Linked DNA regions of Homo sapiens: region 2 is linked to region 1. The links come from fine-mapping of genetic effects on gene expression. Tissue or cell type: whole blood. Region 1 holds a variant in brackets; the other region holds the start of a gene. All regions are shown on one strand. Distances are from middle to middle.

Region 1 (11,304 bases):
AGAAAAAAATTCCACCCAATTTTCTCAGCTTCTTTAATTTGGTGGAAAACGTAAAGTTGTCTCTCCAAGGTAAACTAGCTGAGAAAGTGATTCTAAGAGTAAAAGCAATAAAATTTAACCATAGCTTTACTAGCTGTGCTCACAAATGAGGTAACTCAACAATGCCAACTAAAATAAATATTTACTGCAGTAAAAATAACAGCACCAAGAAGAAGCATCATGCTACATAATTCTGATTACACCAAAGGCAATATTTCTTATCACACCAAATTAAAAGGACGAAAGACATTTACTTGAAACTTCAAGGTAAGGGAATTTTTAAGTTCTCATATGAACAACACTGTTTACCTAATCTTGTACCATATTTTCATGTAAGTTATCCTCATACCATGGCATAGATTTTAGCAAATTCGTGGCCATATCCTATTTTAAAGAAAACTGTACATATTGAATTACCATAACATCTTTGATACTAATGTGCATGGGCAAAAGTTAAGTATGAGAGAAAGAAAGAATATCTACATGTAGTCTGTTCATTTAAGTCTTAGCAGGTGGTCAGAATGTTGCATGTATCATAAAATTCTGGACAACCCCCCAGTCTACAAGATGGCCTTGATAGAAGAGCCTAAAGTCACTAAACAGATTGCCAAAAGGCAAGTGGTCAGAATTGTGGACAGAAGCTACCCTACAGTTCCTTCAAGCCTGCAGCAACAAGAAGAATACACACCTGTTGCTCAAGGCCAGTTGGCAAAATAGAAAATGGAAGTGATGCAGATCTAGAACCTTGCTAGTGAGCTCCAGGTTATGTGGCACTAAGGGAGGGGCAGTGCCAATGGCATGGCTTAGGGAAGCAATGATTTCTGAGTTTTGCTGTTGTTTTTGCATTTTTTTCTTTCTTCTTTTTTTTTGTAGCCAGCTGGTATTCCTAAGGTCAGAAAAACATATGGAAAATGGCAATATTCCAGAAATCAGAAAACAGAAAAAAAAACAGAATTTGATTAATTTTGTCACTCATTCTTCAAACCACGGACAATGACTCTTCACTAAGTAATGGCAACTTCAACCTCTATCTGTAAAAATTTAAGACAGCTACAAAAGTTCTAATAAATTGGGATAATCACACATTTTCATTTTGCCTCGAAGTTTAGTGAGATGATATGTTTTCAAGAGATCTGTAATTAAAAATGGTTTAGTGCCTATAATTTCATCAAACCATTCTGTGAAAGGAAAGAGATAAGATGGAAAAATGAAGAGAAAAATTGATGCAAGAAACTAAGGCAATAATACTGCTTCAAAACCTGATAGGATAAATGTAATAATCATTCTAATACCATATATGTTTGTAGCATTTATGTCTCTGCTTTTTATCCTAAATAAACCCACGCATCTTTCTCATTTGAGAAAATTTACATTGCTTTCCCTGGAATATTTCTTGCCAACTATGGCAGTTTACACCATAGAGAGGAAAGTCTGGTTAACACCAAGTTTTAGGCCTCAGGTATATCCAAGATATACTTGTTCCAGATACAGAGAGACAGATGAATAAAAAGATTCACCACATGTTGAAATAATTGGTCTCAAAAATGCCATCAAGGGAATAATAAATCAACATGGACAGAAAAACTCAGTACATCAATTCCTAGTTACAGACATATTTTTTCCACATGTTGATTCTTCATTTCTACCTTCATTTCCATCGTAATCTAATGAAATTCTAAATGGACACAATTACTTCTCAGGTCATTCACTGTTATTAGAAAGGGGGGTGGGGAAATCTGGCATTACCTGTCCACATTTTCAGGTGCACTGTCCTTGACACAGCAATTCCACTTCCAGGAATTTGGCAAAGAAGGATCTTTGCCAAATTGATACCTCTCTATACCAATACCAAATCTTCCTAAATATTCAGATATGGATTCAAGACAAAGGCAAGAAACAGAATTTGGAATGAGCACTTTTGCAGTGACTTAAAATTTCTAAATAGCTTGATAACATAAAATATTCCAAATATCTAAAGCAAGGATCCTTGTCAAGAAGGTGCCACCCATCAGGTCACACCAACACCATCTGGGCAGAGAAGGGGAGCCCATGCCAGGCACCTCTATCAATGTGGACTTCTCATGTGCTCCTTGGTCCATTTCTGTCCCTAACGTGCAATCCACTATGTTAATATAATTCCCTGTGCCTCCTGCAGCTCTTTCAGGGCGTCTGTGTAGTAGAGTCTAAATCCTCTTTCAGCATTCATGATATATCAGGGATTAGAGTATTGAATACAGTGATCTTCTAGTTGTAAGAGGCTATGGTTTCAACACCTCTCATACTGAGAGTTTTAAACCAGTTGTGTTATTTTGGGGCAACTTACTTAACTTTTCTATACCTTAGTGCCATCAATAAAATTGAGTTGACAATGCCCAGCATCATAATGTTATTTGGAGGATTAACTGAGATGATGACTGTGACTGACAGTGACTGTCCTAATTCCTGACCCATTACTGTACTTCTTCCCAGAAGGCAGATACCATGTATTATTGTACTCCCCCAGCAAAAACCAAATGCCAGACACATTTTATATAAGAATGAACAATTAATCTGAATAATAAAAATAAGGCTTATTTATAAAGGTTAAGTTGAATAGTATATACATGCACATATATGCAAATATATATAATTCAGATATTTTATCTTTCTTAATGCTTACATGACTCTAAACTCTCACAATTTTAAATTAAAACATAAATATGACATAATTGTAAATTTTTCAGCTTTATACATCAGCATTTTACCATCATGAGAAAAGATATTCTTTTTCTTCTTTCTAATTTCCCCAAAGTTAAATTTTTAAAACATAGTTTACTATAAAAAATTATCAACAAATTAGCACTGAATAAATTGTTCTTTATTTCTAGTTAATTTATTTGAAAAGTTGATATTTTATGCTCTAGTTTCTGGCATGAGATATAAAACGTGCCACTGCTCTAAAAAATATATCAGAAAATTTTTTTCCACAAATGGCTTTTTTAGGAAAAAAAATTATAATTAACAGGATCAAAATTTCACATAGTTCCACATCTCTAAACTTATATAGAAATTTAATGATTACATAACTTCAACCATATCAGCAAATACACTTCTTTTACTAGCATGCATCAATATCCTCCCAATTAAAATACTCTGTAAGACTGCCTACAGTATTTCAGATCAAAATAGCTTTTACTGAAATAGACTTTCCTGCCTCTCTGATTTAGCATCTCACTTTCTCTTATTGGCAGATGGTTAGCCAAGTTCTATTTAAATCCATATGTCTTCCATAGGCATCATACAAATACTGAATTAAAAGATGAACAAATGTTTTAAAGCTAATCAGATTAGCCTTTAAGTGAAAAAAGTAACAAAGTGGAGTTTCATTTCCTGCAAATGACTTTTACTACATCACGGTTAGATGACTGAAGGAGTTACATCCCCGTAAACTACCCAGACAAAAATAACTCACTGTATGAGACAAGATTACAGAAAAAGACTTTCCTGACTTTGATTATTTTTTTCATGAATCCTTCCTCTCTGCATGAATTCCAATCCTGGCAGGCAATAAATCTGGTACCAGAGTGATAGTATAGTGTAGGCATGGTTCACCATCAAGACTAAGAAGAACAGAAGAGCAGAATACTTCACCAGCTTTATTTCCATACAGCTATACCCTCTCTCCCTCCTTTACTTCCACTAATTTGCTAAAGGGTCAAATAAACACACAAGAATTCCCACTTGAGGAAAAGAGCTCCATGCCTTTATAGATTTCAGTTTCATAAATATAACCTGTACTTTTATTCATCTCTTCTAGGCAAAGAGATTAAGATGATGAGGTTGAGTTTGTAGTACAAACATCATATGCATTCCTGAGTTCACAAAAGCTTTCAAGTTCTCGTATCCAGGTTTGTCTCTAGTTAAGTCATGCTGCAGACTTAAGGAATAATAATCTACTAGTATCTTTCTCTTCTTCTTATCACACTTTCTGGGCTATATGCCTTTGCTTCTCTGACTTGGCCATAAAATGATATAGATAAATGGTCCCATTACACATTTCTGGTTATCTTGAGCCCAGTATCTAATATTCTAAAATATCTCCCTTCTTTAGAAGGAAGCAGTATATTGGTATGGTAAATCATTCTTCACATTTTTGTTTCAACACTTGCCAGCACTGTGTTCTATATAAACTAATAATATAGCTGTGTAGAAAGAAGACTGATTAAGTTCAACCAAAATTGAACCTAGAGTCAATTTTATTAAAAAAAGAAGGTATATAAAAAATAAATTTTGGAGTCATGATTTAACAAATAGACTTTTTAGGTTTGAACTGAAACTTTTAAAACCTAGAAATGCACTGGCAGATTGTGTCTCTAGATTCCTGTGTCACAAAATTCTATAAAGAAATCTCTGTTTCACCAGATAACTCAGAAAAAAGGGATATATATAGATATATATGTAGATATAGATACATGCCAAGTGTTAAAATGTTCCATTAAAGCTCAAATCCTTTTTATTGTTATACGAACCCTAAATTGCTGTAATTGATTTTTTCCAGAGTAAGTAACTCACTAGATAATCTTATACCCTAAAGGTTATTGGAAATAATGCACAAAGTAATAATTTACTAATTCATCAGTCCTAAAAGAGTATACAAATAATAATCAATTTATAATTATAATCTTAATGGTAGAAAATTTACACAGGCGGTACGGCAGTCTCATACAGCAAATAAAATATGGTTTTCCAAATTTTAAAAAATGCATATTTCCTCATATAATTCTATTCCATTAAAGATATATTGATTTTAGACCTCCTAAAAGATTAGCAGTATAACAGGGCCAACAAGAAACAAAAATATAAAAATGCACAGCCCTCAGGAGCTCTCAGTCTGCTAAAGGAGGAAAATTTGCAAATGGATAAATTAAAAGAACTAGTATTTGCAGTATCTCTCATATCTTTGTTCTACTGTGTCCCATACTTGTCTAAAAGCTCCTTGCTTTTAGTGGAAAAACCTCAAAAAAAACACACACACACTCACACACACACACACACAC[A/ACACT]CACACACACACTCACACTTCAATGAACTTCAATTTCAAGCCCAGGGAGTATCACAGAAACCCCAACATTGCCATGAAATTGATACCTTAAAATCATAAGAACTGGAAACTACATGCATGCCAACTCAATCCCATGTAAACCAAAACCACCATGTTTGAAACTCAGCATGTCTGTTCATTAAAAATAGAATAACCAAGACTTCTGACCGAACCAGAATACTGTGCAGTCAGTGTTGCCAGCCATAAGAAAGGTCAGACTAGCTTGGGCTGGTCCACTGGATCAATCGTCTGGACTGGGCCTGTAAGCCCAAGTGTAAACTCCAACTGTATTGTTACCTATTTCCAAGACTTTCACCCACTATATAGTTAGGTTAGCTATTATGACACAAGTGCAGATTGATTATGATTAGAGTTCATAGTCCTTCAAGTTTGGAAATAACTACTTAAAAGCAATCTAGATATAAAACTTAAAAGGTTTGTTTAAAATAATGGAAAATTGGTATACTCAGGGTAGTTCCTTTACTTTTAAAATGATTATAATACATCTTCAGACAATTTTCAAAAGAACTACCATAAATTCTGTGATCATCACACAACGAAGTGTGGCTGATTTTTTAAAAGACATTTTAATTTGTACTTATTATAACAAAACTTTTAATAAGCATATTTTTTTCTTAACATTAAATGGGTAAATAGGCTAGTAAAAAGTCATAAATAGGCCTATCTCTCAGATCCAAATTGTTTACAAGAACTGAAAGCCTTAAAGCTTGGAAGATTTTAATCAAGACTTCCATTAACCCCCTACCAATATCCCAGGGATCGTAGGAATTTTAAACAAAAGGGAAAGCAGAATGCTTTTAAAATGACTTAATGTGATACAGTATTAAGATATGTAACAGTGTTAGCGATTAAACAACAGGTGATATATCACAGGCAAGCATTTCTCTTTTTTCCTCAATTATAAAATAAGACATTAAACAAGACTTGAAAATAAGCCACTGGGTTAAATCTAAGAGAAATGATTAGCGAATAAATCAGAACACCAATACATAAAACTAAAATTTGATAGTTCTTATATATAATGAATCTATCCAACAGGCATAGTAAATACGGCATTCATTTTTAAATGGGTATTCAAGAATCTTTTCATGTATATTTTTTTCTTTGATAATATGTATATACGACCCTAAGTAGTAGGGCTATTTTTTATTTATATCTGAATAAACGCTATTTACATATATACACACCCTACATATATATTTATATATTTAAAAGAAGATAAACGTTTTGAAGTTATTTACATAATTAAACAATTAAATTTTTATTTTAGACTTTGATTTAAATACCCACCTTCTGTTCTAAAACGTACTCTTCTTTTAGTTTAGCTGGTTACAATAAGATACTTAAAGCATGCATGTCTTTGTGGTGTTTCTGAATCCTATCAATTACGAAAAGACTTTGACATACCCAGAGGATCTTAAAATTTGATCTCACAAATGTCAAAATAGTAACTTTCACTGCAGAGGGGGCCTCACTCATTTTTTTTAACATAGATTTTTAGTTGGAGTGAAAAGTTCAACTTCTGCTTAGATTCTCTGTAGGCTAGTGTACTATGTTTCTTAAGCTTTCCAAATACCACTTTTCAAGAACCAACTGATAAGCAACCTCTTCTGGAACACTGTCTTGATAGATTAATTGAGAAGGGGTCATTTCCTTTTTTAAATTTCTACAACATTTTGCTATTTTTTTTTTGTTATTGTTGTTGTTTTTTCTCACTCTGTGGTACCTGACACTCTTTTTTTCTTGTGCTGTAATCGGTTTATTGAACATTATTTTTGCTACTGGTTTGCAAAAGTCTTAAAGAATCAGTGTCTATAGCTTAGTCATGGTAATGCTGCTCCTATAATATTCTGAACAAACTAGGCTTTCAGTTTATATTCAATTATTAAATGAATGTTAGTTAATTTGGAAGTCATTCCAACTCCTCTATTCCCTATGACAGCCTACGTTTCCAGCTATCCATTAGATATTTTCATCTGAATGCCTTACAAACTTGGTAAGTACAAAACCAGCTTCATTATTTTACCCTCACAGAACAGCTGACTCTAGAATTCTGCTAATGATACACTGAAAATAAATATACGCCAGACTCCGTGGCTCACGCCTGTAATCCCAGCACTTTGGGAGGCCGAGGTGGGTGGATCACCTGAGGTCAGGAGTTCGAGACCAGCCTAACCAACAATGGAGAAACCCCGTCTCTACTAAAAATACAAAATTAGCCAGGCGTGGTGGCGCATCCCAGCTACTCGGGAGGCTGAGGCAGGAGAGTCGCTTGAACCCAGGAGGTGGAGGTTGTGGTAAGCTGAGATCATGCCATTGTGCTCCAGCCTGGGCAACAAGAGCGAAACTCCATCTCAAAAGAAAAAAAAAAAAGAATAAATATAGTAAAGCGTGTGAACTTTGAAGCCAGGCTACTTGGACATGATCCAGTTTGATCCAGCCATTCACTAGCTGGGTGACTTTTGACAAGTGACATAACATCTCTGAGGCTCTACTTCCTCTCTGTAAAATGGAGAAAATACAGCATCTATATAAAGGGGTTATAATGAGGATTAAGTAAGTTACTACAAACAAAGAGTAAAGCCTTGCCCATAGTTAGTCTTTATCAAAGATTAGCTATTATTTGTCTCCTTTCAGTCATCAAAACTCAAAGCCTCTTTTTTGTCACCCGCACATATAAACTTTGCTAACTCTTGAAGACTGTCTGCTCAGCATAGCTACAGAAATCACTTCCCAACATCATTATCCTAGTGTAGGCTCCCTGTTATTACTCATAGAGTAAGAGATCAGCCTACTAATGAGTCTTCGTCACCTCAACCCCGTCCACCTCCTTTCCATGTCAACCTATGTAAGATGGTCATATTAACCCTATTAAAGGTTTCATCAAATTATCCTTTGCCCAAATCCTGGAATGGTTCCCTATTTCCTTCTGAGATAAAGTTTTTCAAATAAACATTTTAGAAAATTATCCTAACCTTTATGTCAAGTCTTAGCTCCCCATACTATACTATACCTAACTTTTCATCAAGCTTTTCTCTTTCCTATATCCTGAAAATGCCCCTTGTAATCTTACATTGTTTCTTCTATATTGGCTTACCCTTCATGCTGTCATATTCACCTGCTAAAAGTCCAGTCTTCCTTTCCGAAACAAGCTCAGAAAACCTTTTGGGACAACTAAGTCGGTTTTCTCAACACAATGTGATCTGTTCCTCTTTAAACAATCATAATCATTCTCGTCTCCCTTCACCTCTTTTATGGAAGTCTGATTGTATTTTAGCTGTCACCATACCTGTCTTATCACCTACAGCTAACTGTATATAACTTGAGTACAGAAATCTTGATATACTCATTTTCATACCCTTTATAAGTTCTTCCACAGTTCCTGCCTGAAACCCAGCAGGTGCTAAATTAATATTTATCGGACAACAAGAAACTTTAGAGACCAGTATATCAGGAATTAACTCCACAAAGTTATCCTCTGCTTTTTCTATTTCTATTTCTTTCAAGTTTGAGTACAGGTTAGTTTGGTCTAGTGAATATCTGTTCTTTGAAAATAAATCCTGAATCCATATGAATACCAATATATTTAAATTCGGACACTCACCAACACGCATTCCAATCCCACAAACAGAAGTGTGTCTTGTTAAAATTTCATGAACTACCAAATATAATGAATCTCTAGTGTTATGAAAGGACTTTGCCTAGAGAAGTCTAATGCTTGGAGAAGCAACTGAAAAGAGACAGGACATAGAATAGTTTTGTACTCTTTGCTTTAACACCTGATTTTCATTCTTATCTTACAATAAACTGTACAAATAGCTGTAAGCAAATGAAAGAAAATTTAAATATTTCAAAATTCAGTTTGTGCACCAAACACTTCACTGAGTAGTTACTGGCATCAACTTCATGTGCTCACCAAAACACATTAAGAAATTTGACATATTAAGAAATGTTTTGAAGGCAGTTAAATCCCATATATATATATAACTTTATAAGTGCATTGTCCTATGAAATATTCTCTGAATGTCCAAGTGACTGAGAAATCTTTCAATTATGAAAGTAAAATCAATACCTGGCTGATTCTTTGCTGCTGCTCAAGAAATGCACCTTATTCAAATAATCATATTCACTTTTTCCACTATAATAATGTTTAAAAAACTTCAGGGTTTCTATTTCTTAGCTATCACTGCAAGGCAATTCAAAATAATGGAAGCCAAGAAATAATACTGTTTTCCTGTTTCTCAGGAGTCTATATACATGATCTGGTAAAGTGACCTATGCTTGCCAATAAACTCTACTACTGTGTGGTCCCATAGAGGAGCCTGACTGTTGGGACGCCAATTCTCAAAATTTAAAATCGCAAGCAAGTTGCAATTATTCAGCTATAAACATACTAAAAGTGGCACTATTGATAATAGCAAAAAATAGAAATAAATGTCCAACAATAAGAAATCGATAGACAGTTTTTCTAGGACAACTAGTACAACATATAGTGAAATACTATGAAGTCAATAAATATGATGTAGCAGAATATACGCTGCTATAAAACAGCGTGTAATTTATTAGAAAGTGAAATTAAAAGTTATTTAATAATAAACATACAAATCTATGTTTGCAGGTGCATGTCTATGTGTGTGAGTGAGCATGTCTGAGTGTGCATGTGCCTGTGTGTCTGTGTCCAGAAGTAAATACATTAAAAACGTTGAAAACTTATTTTCTTCTTTTTGCTTGTTTATATTTTCTAAAATGTCTATAATGAACATATATCTTGATAGGAAAGATAATGCCAAGAAATCCTAATTTAACACCCTTTTCTCTTTTCCTGGACTTTTCCCAATTTGTTTCTCCACTTAATCCCTAGCCTCACCCTAGAGGCCACCTCCTCTCCTGAAACCCACAGGAGCTAAGTAGAAATTTGGTCACTTTCATCATGATCACCCATACTTCAAATAATTCATATATGAGTAATGACATATGATCTCTGAAGGAACATAAAGAACAAAGATAGGTTTATAGTTTTAAGATTTCAGTGGGATGAAACTGAATTATTCACATCCATTAAACAGAGTTTGAATGATTCACAGCCAATTTTATTTTTATAATTGTAATGAAACAGCTGGGATTAGAGTCTATTCATGGACTCATAAGAAATTTGCACCCCACCTACTAAAATTAGTTTCTGCATCCAAAATTCTGATTTGAACATCTGACTGTGAACAAAACAGGCATCATCGCTCAATGCCAAGAAACTGAGGAAGGAGACTTTAAGCATGTCACTTTCTCATAGAATTATTTTCTCATTGTGCTTACTTTCCTTTAACTTCATTCATCAGCAGCCCCTTGACATGATTCTTTTGCAGCAAAGTTGTTTCCAAAGAATGGGCTTTCTTGTACAAGATAAGTTCAAATAATACAATTTTTGAAGCTTTCAGACTGTATGTGTGACAGTTGCTTATAACTTATGGATTCTCAGCCACTGGTTGGAAATCATATTTAAGAATTTGTAGTTCATATATATATATAGATATAGATATAGATATAGATATAGATCTAGATCTTTGGACATCAGCATCATTACGTCCAAAATATAAGATTTTGTCTTAAAGTTGCCTCGGGTATCAATTCATAGATCTGAATGTTTAAGGTTTTAAAGGAAATTTACTTGACTCTAGATTTGCTTGACTCTGCAATTGTAAAGAGATTTGAGAAACTGCATACTTCAAACTATAATCTTCCAAAGCAGGAAACAGTATATGAGGCTTGAGTGACTCACCCAGGGTCACACGGCTAGTTAGTCACAAAGTGAATCTAGAACACAAAGTCTCCTTTCCTCCAATCCAGAGCACTTTCCACTACATCACAAGGGAAGAGCAAAAAGAAAAAATAACATCTAATTTTACCAGAAAATAAAATACAGGCAGGCCTGAACCACAGCCAGAGTTAAATGTGGAGCATACCTACCTCCAAACCCAGCTGGAACCTCAAAGGTTAGTATATATTTTAGACTCTTCAAAAATATTTTAATCACATGTGAATTTGAGGAAAGCTCTGATTTTAAAAACTCAAAAACACTCAGTAGTCACACAGCATAAAGTTATGACAGTATTAGCTGGATAATAAATTTGTAGACCACAAACTGTCCATCCAGACAATTTACACTTTAAAAACA
Region 2 (11,304 bases), 99 kb after region 1:
GCAAAGTATGTTAGTCTTTTCTATACATGACAAGCACTCTTAAACAATTAGATTAAATGTCTACTTGGCAAAGGCTAGAAGACCATCTTTATGCTATATCTAAGGGGGACTCAAAAATTCCATAAATCATAACTATTATGGTAACAAAGAATTTACTTATTTCTGTATAATAACAAAAGATAAATGTCATTTTCACAGATAAGCCATCAAAGTAAACGCAAGTCTACGTATGCTGTCATTAATTTCCCAAAACTTCAACAAATGGTAAATAAGGATGATAAATGAGTAAACAAGACTCAGAATTAGTTATCAATGGTATTAGCAGTTATCATCAGCAAAAGAGGGAGAAAAAGAAACCTATTACCTGAAAGCTTGACCTAGCAAGGATGAACAACAAAATACGAGCCCATAAAACTTGCGGGTTTTTATCAAATTGATTGTAACTTGTGAGCTGCAATATTTGGGACAGAACTGTCTGAGTTTATAGTTTTCTATGCCTGCTAAAAACAGATGCAGACTACCACACTAGCTGTCCTGCGGAAACTAAATTAAGGAAAGGCAAATACCAAGTGGAAAGTTGTCAGCCTGTTGAATGAATGGCTTCATTTTACACACCAGAGAAATCTTAATAAGAATATGTTTTAATGTAAGCCAGTCATTTTAAGTTCATCACTTATTACAAAAATAATCTTTCCTTTAAATCAATTATAGACACCTGCCCATAACTTTCTTAAAGTCTGTGTTGTTGTACACGTAATAGCATAGTGTTGTTACATTATTGTTGCTATCAAAAGAAGAACTGAAGTTAAAATATAATTATTCTAAAATATTCATGTTATGAAAAATGTTTAAAGGTCAGTTATCAGCATTTATTCCAATTTCAAATTTGGAATAAAGTTCTAGTTCAAAAACAATTTGCTGCAAGTCCTCTGGAAACTTTCAGTAATGTTTATTTACAACAAAGAAGGTAAGACAAGCGTTTATAAAAATCTACAGTCTTTGGTTGCTTTCTTAATAAAAATGTACACATCATTAATCACATATTGTGGGTTGTATGTCTGTACACACATACACATATACATCTAATAATAGTAGTGATAATAGAACCGTCACTGAAATACTAGAATCGTAAAAGCTGCTTTTCTACAGATGCATGCATTTCCCTGTTTTAAAGGTCTTCCTTATGAATGAATATTTCCTTATAGGAAGAGATCTATATGATGTAAATCAGAATAAACTCAGGAGTGGTAGGTGACTTAAATAATACTGAAAATATGGTAGTAGTATGTGTAACTTATTTCGGATTAGCACACTGATTCCGATCCTAAACTGGTTTTCAAACACGTATGCAGAAAATTTTATAAAATCATTTAAAATATTAGTCATCGAAATGCTAAGTTCTAAATTCAGCTCAGACTTCACAGCTATTATGACATTTTTCTCCTTACCTTTAACGTTACCTTTAAGAGACAAAGGACAAAACCTAAATAGTAGCACAGACCCTTACAGCATCTAGAATTCAAAGGAGTGACAAACTTTGTGTTAGTAACTTGCTACTTTCCACCACTTATTTGAAAAGTGTTAGACTTAGGTATTATGTATGGAAAAGCAGTCTACACATATATATCCTAACATATAACATACATATCAGGAAGCCATAAACATCAGCTCGCCAGTGGTAAATAATACTTCGCCAACAGAGTACTAATGAAGCTTCAGAAGGCCTCACATTCAGAGAAATCAAGTTATAATGTTGGTATTAAGGCTCTATTTGCCCCTCAGGAGTTTTATTTTCACATTATTAACATCCAGAAATAATCGTCAAACTTTAGCATGTTACTAGCCCTGTATATTGAACTGAATCTAGAGATGTTTTTATCCAAAGGTGTAGCTTTAAAAGGAAGTTATGAAATCCAAGGAGAGAGAAACTCTAAGAATATGTTTGACTTGTTAAGATTAAGCATATCATTAATAAACTTTCACTTAAAGGTAAAAAAAAAAAATCCTCAAAATGTTGGTATCATTTCCAGACTGTCCTGTCAGCATCAGAACTTACAGGAAACGCTTCATCTTCCCATACAAACCCTGTATTTATTCACAACCCTGGCATACTTGGGGAAAGAAAAAAAAAAAAGCCCACACGATTTTAGATCCTGTTTGCTTTTATACGTTAACTGGTGGAATATCTGAGAGAGCCTTCTAAGCAAATGAGCGGCATGTAAAACTTCACAACAGTGAGTTCAGAAACTTTCATTCTCATTTTGTCCACGTCAAGAACTGGCTGCCCGCATGACTTTCCTCTGCTGTCCCTTGCATTTTTAACTCTGGCAGCCTTTTCTAAATGATCAACTTTTTCTAAAACCAGCAGGAAAGTAACATGATGCCAGCAAGATCCATAGGTTTTAGCTTCAGAGCTGGAGGACTTTGAAGAATTGTTGGAAGGTTCCTATTTTATTTTTGCTTTGAACAATCAAGTTTTAGCCAACAACCAGGCCCAGAGTTATCATTTCTTTGTAATTTTGTCTCAGGCCCTATCTGTATTTTTCTTTTGTACTTATTATCTCTCCCAGACCCTTTCCTTTCCTGTTCACCTGGTGTGTTTACAAAAGTTCAATGAATCTACAAAAGTTCAATGAATAGGCCTAACTTGTCTCAGATTTAACTCCTCCGCTGAGCTTCTCACTTCACTTACCTCGCTTAAACTCTAGCCGTGATTTTCCAAAATGGCATAAGAATGAATATTCTATCATAATTTAGATTCATCATTAAGATCAATGGCTTACTCAAAAAACTTTCAAAGCATCAAATATGAGGCCTAAAAAGATAGAGGGAAGTAAAGCCGGTCCTAAAATTTAATAAGTCCAAGATTCCCTCTGAAACCCACCAGTCCTTCTCACCCTCTAACTTAAATTGCTTTAGAGTCCTGGGGCCATAAAACAGTTGCTGACTTCCCTGGGGAAAGGGGGAAACACCACCATCTCAGACAGGTACTAACGAAAAAGCTTTCCCAGCCACAAAAACAGCTTTACACTTCAAACAGCTCCCACCGCCGCCTCACCCTCAAATTATTCCTGGGGTCCTATAATCCTGGAGTTATTTGGAGGGACAGCGATGTTTGCCTTGGCCTTTCAAAGATGCGTTTCTCTAGATCCCAAACAGGAACCAGACAGAAGGCAAAGCGTCTGTCCGCTTGGATGTCCCACCGCTGTCAGGCATTTAATCACCGGCCAGTGTCCCCTGACCCGCGCGACACATGGCGCATCAACCGCATCGCAGAGGAAGTCTGCCCCTTCCTCAGCCCCTACGGAAGCGCCCGGGCTGCAAGGCCCTGCCACATGGTACGGACAGGGCACAGACCGCTCGGCCAAGCTGTCCTGAGCCGCTCTGAGGCGGGTGCACCAAGGGATGCGACACCCGCCTTCTCCAGAGCCCAGCTGGGCCTTTAAGGGAAAAAAGTTTGAAGCCTGCATTTGCAAACTCTTCAAAGCCAAAGGCAGTCCTGTGCTGTTTTCCCACTTTGGAGACCATACGGAGGCCCGTCTCTGAGACCCTCCCGACCCTCCCGAGTTCGCCCAACTTACTACTCTGCATGCTGGTGCCTAGTCTGCGCCCCGCTTGTCACGAGCCCCCAGAAAACTTGCAGTGGCGGCGGCGGCGGCGGCCCCTCGGGTCCAACCACCTCCAGCTCCTCCGCTGCGCCCGGTAGGAGAGAATTAAAATCAGCCAGAAAGAGACAGCGAGGGGGAGTGGGGCTGCGAGGGGGAGGGGGCACCGGCCTGAAACTTCTTTTTTTGGCAAATGGGGATTTGTTTTTCCTCCTCCCCGGCGGCTGAACTTGACCCTGCTGACTCCAGGGGCTACTGCAGTTTGAAGTCGCTGGTTTCCAAAGCTCAGATGCCTCAGACCCACCAAAAGGAGGAGAGGAAGGGGGAAAAAGGGAGCAGAAGAGAAGAAAGAAAGAAAGAAATCACACGCTCAAAAAGGAAGAAAGAAAATGCATGTGAAACCCGAGAAGCCTGCGCTTGGCTTTCTGCACACTCTCCCTCTGCTTTTTTTTTTTTTTTTTTTTTTTTCAAAGAAAGTCACTTTTAATTCCCAGGGCTCCCCGCTCGCGATCGCCCACATTTTGCGCGCACACGAGCGGGCGCTGCACTCGCGTCGCGGCGCCCCGGGCCCGGCCGAGGGGCGCCCGCGCCCCCCGCGCCCCCCGCAGCCCCCGGCCCCGCGGCCCGCTCGGGCCTCCCCTCCTTACCTGTTGATTAATCGTCAAGAACACCCTCGGCAGCCCGAAAGATGGTGGCGCGGCGGCCAAAGCCATGAACCGTCTTCTGTTGTTTGCAGAGTTGATCTTGGATTATTGCGGGGGGGAGAGAAAAAGGTCTTTCCTGCCTCCCCCCCCTTTCCCTCCCCCACCCTTATTAAAAAAGAGAGAGAGAGAGAGAGAGAGAGAAAGAGAAAGGAAATAGAGCAAGGATGTGCCCGGTGCCGGGTGGGAGAGGGGAGGGGGTGTTGTTTTTTGTTTAAAAAAAAAAAAAAGAAATAGGAAGGCGAGAGAGCAATCGAGAGGACGCGAGGTCTGGAGAAACCAGCAGCACCAAAAAAGAGGACGCTAGAGATTGCAGTAAGATCGGGTCTTTATCAGAAATGTTATCGCTTGTCAGGACCTCAGTCTCCGCGCATTACGTCAGTTTCAAGACACCAACACTATTAATATCAAAGGAGCCTTCGCGGAGGAAAGCGCCACCCCAGACCGAGCTCCCTTAAAGAGACAGCGCGCGTCCCCGCGCCGCCGCCGCCGCCCCGCCCGGCTCCGAGCACCCGCCGCCGCCGCCCGCCGGGACCGGCCCCGGCCGCGGCGAGCCGGCTGCGCGAGAACTTCGCCCGAGTCGGAGCGCCGCAAATGAGAGCGGCGCGGTGCAGGGACCCGGCTACCTTCCCGCCCCGCCTCTCCCCCCTCCTCCCTCCCCCACCTCCCGTCTGTGAACGTGCGGGCTGGAAAAGGAGGAAAAATCCGAACGCGTTAGGAATAATGTGATAAAGACGAGGACTTACCTTGGGGTAGTGGGGGGCAGGTGGGGGGCAGTGCGTGGCCGCCAAACCGACGTTCCCCAGACACTCAGAGATGCTAACAGAAACAATTTAAAGAACTCTCAAAGTCCTTTTACCTTTTCTGTTGTTACTTTCCCTTCTCTCTCCCAATTAAACGACGCAGGATGTGTGTGTGCGTGTGCGCCCCCTCCCCCGCCCTTTATCTGTGGCAAGAAGTCTTAGGACACCTAGTTGGTGATCAGGATTCCCCACGATTTTCACGGCAAGAAGGCTTGAGGAGAACAACTTGAACTCTATCCTGAGTTGGAGAAGTGCGGACTGAGGTTGCTATGGTTTTCTGAGCTAAAGAGAAGCCAGAAACTCAATGGGTGCTTTAAGGGGGTACCACAAAACAGACAAAATGGGAACATTATTCAAATGCTGCAAGATTAATACATGCAGTTTGGGTTTTAGTAGCAGATAAGGAACTCTGAATTAAGCGTGACATTCTTTTTTACCTACTTTACATCTCCATATACTCTCATTATTAAGAGAAATTGCCTCAACATAAAGTTCACTGGATTGAGCTTTTTTTTTTTTTTTTGACTTCTAAAGATCAACAATGCATAAAACATTACCATGACAGGATTCAAAGTATAGTAGGTGTTAAAAACAAAGTAAACATTTCTTGGGCGTTTGGACTTCATTTTCTTCAGTTGGGTGACTTTAAGTGGCATGTTTTTCCTCTGGTGAAAGTCAGTTTAAAGTAATTTTGTGCTAAAAGGAGAAGCATCTTTCCTTTTCCAAACTACAAAATGATTAAAATTAGAATCTTAGGTACAATCATGAATCTGAGAGCCGAAGATGAAGTAATTTCCTCCAAAATATTTTTCACTAAATGATTCTTGCATCTTTTTAGAGAAAAGATGGGTATATTTTCCAAACATACTATTATCAGAAGTGAAAAAGCCAATCATTTTAAAAAATTAAAACTGAAGTAGGTGCTTTTAGAACCTTATTCCTTTTTCTCTATGGTCTTTATTTAATATACCTAGTCAAGCAGATATGTGATTTTTTTTTTGTAGCACATTTATTCCAGAAGTATTTTGGTACCGTTTCCCATACACTCTTTATGAGTAGAAAACCAATAATTCTTTTGCAATAGAGAAACTAGTCAGGTGAAAAAGTAGTCAAAATACAGTTTCACAATGAGGCAAACAATATATTTCCTAAAGGAGAGAGAAGACAATGAGCCTCATATGCCTGGAGTTATTCATATGTTATCATCCATTTAAATTAATTTGAGAACAGAGTTAGATTTATATATAGTACTGCATGCCGGGAAAATTAATATCAAAATCTTCAGTAAATCTCATAGTCAGCTACTAATGACCACCTGCATATTTCCACACTGGAGTCATTTAATACTGTCCACCACCAATTTCCACTGTAAAATGTATTCACATATTAAATATAGACCTTTTATTTTCTTTTTTTAAGCCATAAATTAACTTGCTGACTTTTATGGAAATATGCACGGCACAGTGAGAAGCATTTTTATTAAAGGAAAAAAATAAGGATCTGAGTGAAACATTCTTGAGCCATGACTAACTAAAAATATTAAATCAATTTTGAAATATGTATTCGAACAGTAAGACTGTTTTGTATTGAAAGGGTTAATATCACCTAAAACTGCTGAAGCTGGTATCTAACTGATAAAATCTGAGGCTATAGCATCTTAGCAAAGTTAAATAGTACAATTTATCACAAGGATTAGGCCCCTAATCTCCTTCTGCTCCCCAAGATTTAGATGACATTTTAAAAGGGGAAGTGATCTTCCTCTCCATCACCCACAAATCTAAGGCAATCATCAAGACTGTAAATTTATTCACATGAAACAATCATTGATTAAATTGGTTCAAAAAAAAAATGAAATTACATGCTTTTGCAAGCACAAAGCCCTTGAGATGGCTGGTGTTTTTCCACCTGTAATAATACAAAATTTGACTATTAAGTGTACCCAAAATTACATATTATATGAAAAGTTAAAGCCAAAGGTCTGAGGGTGAATTATGTCTTTTAATTGAAAGGATAAAGTTACACTTCAGGTACTGAAGCCAACAAATTCATGGTCACTTAAAAATTTAATGAATGAAGTTTCACGGACTCAATCTTGCTGAAGTTTGCCTGAGAAATGAAGAATCTCTTCATGTTACTTTTTGTATTTCAAGTTAGAGTAGAGCAGATCAAACTGCTGTCTGTATCAATTCATTTACATTAACCACAAAGGATCTGTAGAGAACTTAATAAAAGCTCAAATATTTTTGTAAACTTTTGCAAGCAAATTACTTATTTATTTATGAAATAATTTATGAAGAAAATTTTTACCTCATGCTTTAGATACATTACATGTGCTCTTGATTGACACAATATGTTTAAGCTCAAAGGCCCTCATAGCATTTTTTAATTCTAGTAGGAATATTTCAAAACAACCAACTAATACATGAGGTCATAATTGTTTGACAGTTGTTTTTAATGTATAAAATAAGTTACGTATATTGTTTTCCTTGAAATGTTTGTTGATTTGTTTTTCTAGTCCTGACATTTGCATGGCACAAACTGAATTAAGGGAAATATTAAAGATTTATTTACATTTAATACCTTCTGCTGTCAAACATATGCAAAACTCTTAAAACCATTCCCTTATTTGCAACGCATTTCTGAACAATGGAGACTGGATATTAAAAAGACAACCTGTGCTTTTATAGGACACACCAGAAAATAAAGAAGATATTAAGAGAAAGAAAAAAGCAAACAAAAGAAGCACATTTTAATTAAAATAATTTCTTTATAATCTTTCATAATTCTTTGAATTATGGAATCTTCTCTTGTGGCTTTAGCACTGATGAAACAGTTCCTCAAGCTGTATTATTAATGCATATTATTTATCAAAATGACATACTATAATATACTTTTTCTGTTTTATTATTTAAACATTCTTTTCCCCCCTTTTCTTGTAGTTTATTCAGCAGAGATACAAAGAGGGATTAGTAGTTAAGCACAAGCATACTTGTTTTACATTTTCAACCTTTTAGCACACTACTTACTTACAGTTCCAGTGCCTGTAATCACAATGATTTTACCTGATGGAACACGTATTTCAGAAATGTAATCCAACTGTTTACCCTAACACGTCATAAATTGCAATTCCTTTTAGAAACCTCAAAGATTGACAACCCTTGGTCCTAAATGCCGACTGCTTTAACACATACTATCAAGAAAACATTTATGTATTATTTGCTTTCAAGTTAGTCCTACCCCATGTGAAATGGAAGACCCTTTACCTTCCAGCATATCAAAAGCAATTATTGAAATACTCTGCCTTCCTTCACGGTAAGACCTGAAGGAACAGAGGCATTATCAGAGATGAACTACCTTAAGTTTATTTCTTCCCACAATCACTCGGCAATCAACGTTTAAAAACATACTCTTCCACACAAATTATGGTAGTTTTCCAAACTACCTATTGCTGAACACCTCTGGGTGAATTTATTAAAGAAAAATTCAGCTTTAAATAGCCTGTATCTGGTATTCAAACTCACACTTACACTTGCCAATCTTCCCCCTGCAATATCAGGCAATTGCCTAGTTAAACAGATGGGCCTTGCAGCCCACCCTAAAAGCCAGCAAACATGGGCTTTATTTAATTAAAAAGGGAAACAAATTTCTGAGGTGTAGACACACACACAGAGAGACATACACACACAATCTCTGACCGGGGTCAATCCCAGAATAAAAATATTGATTCTTGCTTTCTCATTAGGTTTTATGAATGTCCAACCATATACTATCCACTGGATTGAAAGAACTAAATGAGATCATTCAGTGCTGTATACTCAGACCAAATCTCTATGGGAAATAGCTGAACTCATTTCCTTTCTTTCAAGTAAGAGAGAACATTTACATCTGAATTAACCCAGATTCAACTCTTCTCCATCTGACATTGAAGAGTAGGTGTTTTCCAATTTTCTTCCTATTTCTACCCCCTGCTCCGTTATCCTCTGCTGCTTTGCACTCTTATCCCACCCACTACTCCATACTTACGCAATAAACTCTCAGTTGTACATAACCAAACTCAACATCTGATTTTGCCTAAATTTCAGACTAAAATAATCCACTAGAAACTCAAATTTAATATGACCAATATCATCATTAAGAAAGAGGAGACTATAAAGACAGACAACATGGAAGGAGGAAGGAAATAGACAAACCTTATCTCTGTTCAAGGCCTGAGTCATCCAGACCAGAAACCTCAGGATTTTGGCAATACCTTCTCCCATAAGCCCCACATCCAATCATTTACTAGTCCTCTATTGCTTCTTTTTAAAAGGTGTTTGTACCTGTTACCACCTTTCTTTTCATCCACATGGATCCTTCTCAAACCCAAAAGTTAAAATCTTTCTCAAGACATCCAGTTGAATGTGTCATCCCTACTCTAACCCCTCATGACCTTATGACAAAAATCCTATAACTCTCAACTGCCAGAAGAATAACCCCCAAAAGCTTCAAGTTCTTTCATAACCTAGTCCAAAATGGCTTTCTGGCCTCATTCTTCACTCAACTCTTCCACACAGACCATTCTCAATCATTGATTGACTCCCCATTCCCCAGATACAGCTAACATTTCAGAACGTCTTGGCTTATGCTTACAGAGCCACCTCACTTCGAAGGCTTTAAAGAGACTTTTATGCTAAATCTCCATGTGCATATCCTCTCTTCTTCTAAGGTCAAACTGAGATTCTGCCTTTTTCATAACCTTCATCAAATTCCAAATCATAATCAGCAGTGCAAGAACTAAGATTCTATAGAATTTGCTTCCATTTCTAAGTAGCAGTTCATCACAGTGACTTCTATGATATTGTTCCTTGAATTATCTCCCTCCCCTGCTAAACTGAAAGATTCCTGAGGGCAGAAAATCATGAAATCATAGTTACTCAATAACATCTGTTGAATTGATTTTGGAGATTGGATCAACCTCTTTAAATTCTACCTAGAAACAAACCTTTGAGGCCAGGTTTCAAATGTTCTATGTGGCTCACTCATCCTTTCATTTCCTTCCCTTCCCTTTCTTTCTTCCTTCCTTCCTTCCTTCCTCCCTCCCTCCCTTCCTTCTTTCCTTCCTTCCTTCCTTTCTCTTTCTTTTTCTTTCTCTTTCTTCTTTTCTCTCTCTGTCTCTCTTTGTGTGTGTGTCTCTCTCTCTCTTCTCTCTGTCCCTCCCTTCCTCTCCCTCCTTCTCCCTCTTTCTTTCTTTCATACACATGGGCTGATGCATCATGTACTAATTGAAACTTCTGGGTGGCCTTCATCTCAGCTACATATTTTTGGCAATGTATCAGAGGAGACATTTGTCCTCTTCTGAAATATTGTCCTCATTATCATTAAGTTTTGGTTTATAATTCCATGTTGCTCTAAAAATAGTGACTTAAAAGATCCTTAAATCCAAGGCATTAAAATATAGGAGTATTGAAAATGAGGCTGAAAGCAGATAAATTTTAGATGGGAAGGGATTATTTGTAGTTTTAGAAGCCAGGAGTATGAATTAAGAAAGTTATAACAGTGAGGTAGGAATAAGCAAACTCTTTAGACATTAACAGTATTTTTTTCTCTCTCTCTTGTTTACCATTAAAATATTGAATCGTCTTAGCATAATTCCATCTGTTCAAGTTTTGCAGATGTTAAACTCTCAAAAGCTTATGTGACATTTAATTAATTTTATACACCCAAATGTCCAGGTTCCAGCAGAGATTCCATTATAATGTTCTATGAATCTAACGGAAGTATGTGTGTGTGAGCACATGTTTGTGTGTGTATACATGGGCATGTGTCTGGGACTGCATGAGCATCTGGCAAATGAAAACCCCTGTTTTGCTGGCATTCCATCTTGGTGGTCACACAGTTAACTTACCCTCAGTACATCCAGACAAGTTGAATTGACTGCTCCATCAAGAGCCACATAGGCATTGCTAAATGATCACATGATAAGTATTAGTTATTATTTTCACTCTAAACTTCATTCATCAGTAACTCTACATTAATTAGAAGACAGTAAACTGTCAGTTTCTGGAAGGAAGGCACTTTCCACATTCTCACTCTGCTCTGTGCCATGAGAGAAGGAGCACTTTATCGCCTGATCTCCCTTGCCATCTAGGTTCCAGGGGGTTTTGGCCAAGAGCACCATTAGATCAGAGAACAGGAAGAGAGATAATCAGTGTACTT

Evidence for each region. PIP is the estimated chance that this variant, and not a neighbour inherited with it, causes the effect.
Region 2: TRPS1 starts here. The variant in region 1 is fine-mapped to the expression of TRPS1 in whole blood (INTERVAL, PIP above 0.99).

The regions. Positions count from the first base shown.
Region 1 is chr8:115,565,634-115,576,937 of GRCh38, forward strand. All of the region lies in intron 5 of TRPS1 (transcriptional repressor GATA binding 1), which reads right to left. Among named protein-coding and RNA genes, the nearest start is that of TRPS1-AS1, 62 kb to the left of the region's middle. The variant A/ACACT (reference allele first, on the strand shown) is at 5,076.
Region 2 is chr8:115,664,293-115,675,596 of GRCh38, forward strand. TRPS1 (transcriptional repressor GATA binding 1) reads right to left here and starts at 4,683. Exons shown (of 7, transcript NM_014112.5): 1 at 4,253-4,683. RefSeq lists enhancers at 2,051-2,140, 3,178-3,297, 4,278-4,327, 4,440-4,981 and a silencer at 4,798-4,957.